Linked DNA regions of Homo sapiens: region 2 is linked to region 1. Evidence: fine-mapped expression QTL. A gene starts in region 1. The other region holds a variant in brackets. All regions are shown on one strand. Distances are from middle to middle. Region 1 holds the start of TFB1M (transcription factor B1, mitochondrial). Region 2 overlaps TIAM2 (TIAM Rac1 associated GEF 2).

Evidence for each region. PIP is the estimated chance that this variant, and not a neighbour inherited with it, causes the effect.
Region 2: its variant is fine-mapped to the expression of TFB1M in whole blood (TOPMed, PIP above 0.99).

Annotation. Positions count from the first base shown.
Region 1 is chr6:155,312,909-155,315,824 of GRCh38, reverse strand. It overlaps TFB1M (transcription factor B1, mitochondrial), which reads left to right and starts at 1,341. Exons shown (of 7, transcript NM_016020.4): 1 at 1,341-1,529. The coding sequence starts at 1,397. RefSeq lists enhancers at 527-576, 1,127-1,176, 258-1,248, 1,247-1,566 and a silencer at 997-1,076.
Region 2 is chr6:155,255,577-155,258,492 of GRCh38, reverse strand. TIAM2 (TIAM Rac1 associated GEF 2) reads right to left here. Exons shown (of 27, transcript NM_012454.4): 27 at 770-2,009. The coding sequence ends at 1,372. It overlaps TFB1M (transcription factor B1, mitochondrial), which reads left to right. Exons shown (of 7, transcript NM_016020.4): 7 at 411-2,359. The coding sequence ends at 657. Among named protein-coding and RNA genes, the nearest start is that of CLDN20, 7.0 kb to the left of the region's middle. The variant T/G (reference allele first, on the strand shown) is at 1,338.

The DNA of each region.
Region 1 (2,916 bases):
ACAACTCAGGTTGTCTTCTCTCTGTACTTTGCTGTCTGACTCTGGGCATTGTCAAATGACCTCACCTCCCCTATTTCTTCACAGCAAACTAAGAATAATAATCTCATTCACATGGGACCATTGTGAGGAGTACGGGAAATAATGAATATAACTGTGAAATAATGCTTTGTCAGGTATACTGTGTTTTGGACGATAAGATATCTGAATCAAGAGTTTGTACTTCCAGTCTACATTTTGATGCCACGTTGGGCAAATCTCCTTACCTCTATGGTAGTCATCACTATTTTTTAAAGCTAGGAGATTATCTCAGTTCCTTTTAAAACAGCTTTTATAGAAGGTGGTTGAGTTTTCCACTGGAATTTCAAAGTACTCCTCATTTTTATATCCATACCCATAGTTGTTTCGTTTTCCATTAGCTTTTTTAAAAACTTACTAATTGAGGAACAGAAACTTTAAAATTCATTTGTGATCAACGCAGCAATGTCCAAACATAAGCAGGGTTAAAACAGCAAAATTCTCCCACCTATCAGAGAAACTTTAATTTTTTTTTTTTTTTGCTTCGTTGTTTTTATCTCGTATAACGGAAAGACAGAACTCATATTTCAGTCTTCTCTCTGTTCTTAGCTGTAATCCTAGCAAATCGAATGACCTCTTTACACTGGCCAATTATTCATCTGCCAAATAATAACAGCCACCACTGATCACGTGGGAGCTTACCCAATGCCATGCGTGCACTATGTTCTGAACGTGCACACCAGGCGATCTCTCTCATTTAGTGCTCACAATTTTGAGGTAGACATTAGCTCCATTTAACTGATGAAAAAACTGAGGCTGAACGAAGTTAAAAACCCATCATGCAGCATCTGCAGAGCGGCGGTTCTAAAAACGCCTCACAGTAAGAAAGAATTGCTAACAAACAGTAGCTTTGCCTCTAAGCACCCGCTTTTCCTCTAATATTCACAGACAGGTATTTAGAACGTTAAAGAGCCGGAAGCCCTTGGGAACTTCAGGGCGGGAGTAAACCGGCTGCACCTCTCAGAGCAACTCCTCCGAAAAACCCCACCCTGTCCAGGCCCCGCCTCGTCCCGCCCTCCTGGGCGCTCTCCCCATAGCCCGCCCAGGAGAAGCCTAGTCCACCCGGCTCTCCCCCGGCTCTCACAGGCGGAAGCCGCCGACCACCCAGCCTGCCCTTCTCGCGGCAGGACTTAGCGCATGCGCTCTCAGCACGCCGGGAATTTCCTGTCCGCGGTCATCGCTTCCGGTGGGATAGGTCTGACCAATGGGGCTGACTCCGAGGCGGGCCTTAGGTCTCGCAGGTTCCTCCCCTGCGCGTTTCTTTCGGAGCGGCGGTGAAGGTCCTGGGTGAGGTAGGGTTGGATGGTGCTTGCCGCGTATCATGGCTGCCTCCGGAAAACTCAGCACTTGCCGTCTCCCTCCGTTGCCCACGATTCGAGAAATCATTAAGTTGTTAAGACTGCAAGCAGCGAAGCAGCTATCACAGAATTTCCTCCTGGACTTGAGGCTGACAGGTGGATGGCTTAGCAGTGCTCCCCGGATGTCTCCCCAGTGTCCGTGGGGGCGTGGGCCGGGGGGTCTTGCACGTCCCCGCGGGCGGGTGTCCAGGCACTGGCGTGCGACGGGCTTTTGGTCAGGTCCTTCGACCTCTTTGTATCAGAACTCCGGTCCCACCGCCCAGGAGACACGTGAAGTGCGTTGATTGCTCACAAAACTCCGCGTTCGGGGGGGTGTAGCCTGCCGGCAGGCTGCATAAATGCCAAGCTCCCTAGGGGAGGAAGGGTTCATGGGTCGTGAAAGGCGCTAGTGAATATTGGAATCTGGGTCACTGTGAAATCAATCATTCTGAAATAGTACAGCACATGCTGACTGCAGTTGCTTTACATGCAGTTTAAAGTTACCAGAATTTAAATTGATGCGAGGATTTTATCAATAACTTGGTGAAAAGAGTATCCCTCGTATGATTCGTTTTTTAAACGTTTACCTGTTCAGTCTAAGCCTCGGGGGCGCTAATATTCATTCATAAGTACATATTACACAAGCAACATTGTGCTAGTGCCGGGGGTAGGATATGGGCGTGAACAAGGCGGTGTTTCCTCGAGGAGCTTACTTTTAGCAAGTTTACATTCCCACACCTAATTGTTTAAAGTTACTTTTTATGAGATATAATTTATGTGCAATAAAATTAATAAGTTTGAAGTGCTCAATTTGATGAGTTTTGACGAATGTATTTATATATTGGTTTAACCACCATCACCATTGCTTAGTGATGTTCTATGAGATGAGGTTGCAAAAATATATTACAAATACGTCTACTAAGTCACGGCTGGAGTACTTAGGTTTTGAGATTTTCATATTTCATTCTATTTAGTCCCACTTCAGAAGTTGAAAAGAGCAGTAAATCACACCCAAAAAGTTCATTTTCACTTAAATGAAGCACACTCCAGAAAACATAAAATGTTTTATTTCTTGGACATGTAGTCTTTATTCTGCCTGTACCAATATGACTTTGGATAAAATAATTTAACTCAAGTTTTCTCTTTTTTTTTTTTTTCTTTTTTTAAGATGGAGTTTCACTCTTGTTGCCCAAGCTGGAGTGCAATGGCATGATCTCAGCTCACTGCAACCTCCGCCTCCCCGGTTCAAGTGATTCTCGTGCCTCAGCCTCCCAGGTAGCTAGGATTACAGGCGTGAGCCACCGTGCCTAGCTAATTTTGTGTTTTTAGTAAAGACAGGGTTTCACTATGTTGCTCAGGCTGGTCTCAAACTCCTGATCTCAAGTGATCCACTCGCCTCGGCCTTCCAAAGTGTTGGGATTACAGGTGTGAGCCACCATGTCCAGTAGTTTCCTCATCTTTTAATTGGAAGAAGGGCCTACTACTTTAAAAGATTGCCCACTCT
Region 2 (2,916 bases), 57 kb after region 1:
TGATACATTCAAATTCTAGAGAATCAAAACTGATGATTTGTCACACAAGAAATAATACAACTTTCACATTGAAACATGAGGCACATCAAGCTTATGTTTCTACAAGAATGCAGCTGAGCAGATGTTACTTTAAACTTACTTACTTACCTTTAAAAAGTACATGTACTGATTTAGCTTTGGAGAATGCTTTCCCATTGTGTGCTTGCCTCGCGCCTCAGGTTAGAGCTGCCTCAGTGGCGGGCCGTGCCTCTTATCTGGTGCTATATAATCCAAGAGGCTCCTGCCACTCTCTCCAGCTGTCAGTAGCCAGCAACTGTGTTGTGTTGTTTTCAAATGAGGGTTAAAAAGTGTCATGATTTGCAGAATTTAAGTAAAATTCTTATTTTTCTGTCTGTCTGTCTTCCCCTCAGAATGTTATTCCCTGAAGCGCAGCGCTTGGAAAGCACGGGCAGGCTGTTAGAGTTGGCAGACATAGACCCTACTCTTCGGCCCCGCCAGCTCTCCATCTCACACTTTAAGAGCCTCTGTGATGTATACAGAAAAATGTGTGATGAAGACCCACAACTCTTTGCATATAATTTCAGAGAAGAACTCAAGCGAAGAAAAAGCAAAAATGAAGAAAAAGAAGAGGATGACGCAGAGAATTACAGACTCTAGCTGCTGCCTGGGGGCGAGCAGCCTACCAGATGTCGATTTGCACTACGTGGAGCTTCTTATATAGGTACTCTTTTGTCTTTACAGAATGACGATACAAATGCCAATGACCAGATGTGACTTATTTTCCTTTTACTATACAGCTTGGCAGAGAAAATAAATATCATCAAATAAGATACAGTACAAGCTTTCTTTTAATATATACTGTATAGATAGTTATGACATGTTTAGTATAAACAGCATCTATTACAATCTATCTTACAAAAATGAAGTATCTGCACATTTTGCCCCTAAACCACATTAAAATAACTTAAATATGCTTTAAATAAAGCAAAAACTAACAAACAGCTGAAAGAAAATGCCCAGAGGATTTTAAAAAATGGCCCTTTGAAAACTATTAATCACGACTTCCCCAGCCTTACTTTTTCCACATAACTTAATTATTAGAATGTAATTTTAAGGATCCTAAATCATTTGATACCTGCTCAAAGTGGATATAAACTAAGTAATTTACAGATTCTGACCAGTTTCATCTAGGTTTCTGATCCACAATAAATTAAAATAACTTAAATCTTTACAACCATTTTGTGGGAAAATGTATACTGCACAAAACCCAGGAATGAACAGTTTTTTTTTTTTTTTTTTTTTGCAATTTCCACTTTACCACCAGTTTAAAAGTAAAA[T/G]GAGGAATTTAACCCATATCTGGATTGAATCATACTATGATTTTCCGTGGCTCTCTGTTTCATAAAAACACTCCTCACTGACAACAGATGTTAAACTCTGGACACTGAATTCTCGCTCTAGAACAGAATTTAGGTCGATGGTGGCATTTTCAGACTGACTGTCAAGGGACTGGTGACGGATCTGCGCCTTGAGCAAAGTTCCTCTGTCCCTCTTGGTGCTGTTGGCTTTTCGTTTAATGGGGCAGAAGTGCCCCCGGACCAGTTTGGGCTGCTCTCCTCCTTTCTGACCCTCACCCGACTCCGGGCCAGGCTGCTGCTCAGCCTCGGGGTGAACGTCTGGGTCCTCGGAAATCCTCAGTCTCTGGAACTGAATTTCGATGTCTTTAGTAGGGCTGCCCTGCTTCACAGTCTGACGGTGGTCATCATCTTCATCGCTCAGGATGTCACTCTCTTTGATGAGATTGTCGGCAAAATCTGCCAAGCCGGGGTGTGGGTATTTCCCGGGAGAAGTGCTCTTGGAGTCCTGCCTGCCCTCAGCCGTGGGGCAGCCGCTGCTCTGGGTGCCGCTGCTCAAGCTGCCCTCGTCAGAGTCCAGCAAGGTTCCCTTGCCAGTCTCACCGGTCCACTCGTTGCTGGAGGAATTCTTCAGGACTTTTAAAGACCTGGATGAAGCTACAGTGAGAAAAACACATTTCGCTGTGATACAGAAACAGGTTACACAATGTGTAATGTTTGCCTCAAAGCTTGTGTAAGATTTAACATTAAGATTTTATTTTATGATATGACTTCAGTTAGCAACTATCCTGGTAATTAGGCAAAAATGTAGCTACTGAAAACATGGACATTTTTGACTTAGGTTTACAGTTGTAAGTTAGGCAATTCAGCATTTTTAGATTACCAGAGCTCAATTATGTAAATAGAACTAGACACTAGAAACTACTACATGGGCTAAGATTCTTATTTTGCCAAGGAGTAAGTTGAAAAGTTAATTGGTAATAATAAATCTAGGCTCCTTTCTTTCACTAAGGTGCTTTGTAATTTGATCATGAAGATCACACCATATTCCTATGCATCTTCTCACCTTGTGGATTTCCCTTGCTGCTCAATTAAAAGTAGAAAATGCCCCTCCCCCCCCCTTTTTTTTTAAAGACAGTGTCTTGCTCTGCCACCCAGGCTGGAGTGCAGTGGTGTGATCTCTGCTCACTGCAACCTCCGCCTCCTGGGCTCAAGTGATCCTCCCATCTCAGCCTCCTGAGTAGTTGGGACTATAGGTGCGCATGATCACGCCTGGCTAATTTTTATATTTTTTTTGTAGAGATGGGGTTTTGCCATGTTGCCCAGGTTGGTCTCAAACTCCTGTTCTCAAGAGCTCAAGGGATCCACCTGCCTTGGCCTCCCAAAGTGCTGGGATTACAGGCATGAGCCACCATGCCCAGCCTAGAAAATGCTCTTTATCTCTCATATGAGAACTGTCTCTGCTGGAATTTCAAAACAACTTTCTGAAATTTTATGTTATAGGTGTGTGTGTGTGTGTGTGTAGTTCTGTTCTCTTGGATTGAAAGAAGGAAGGGAGTTCTCA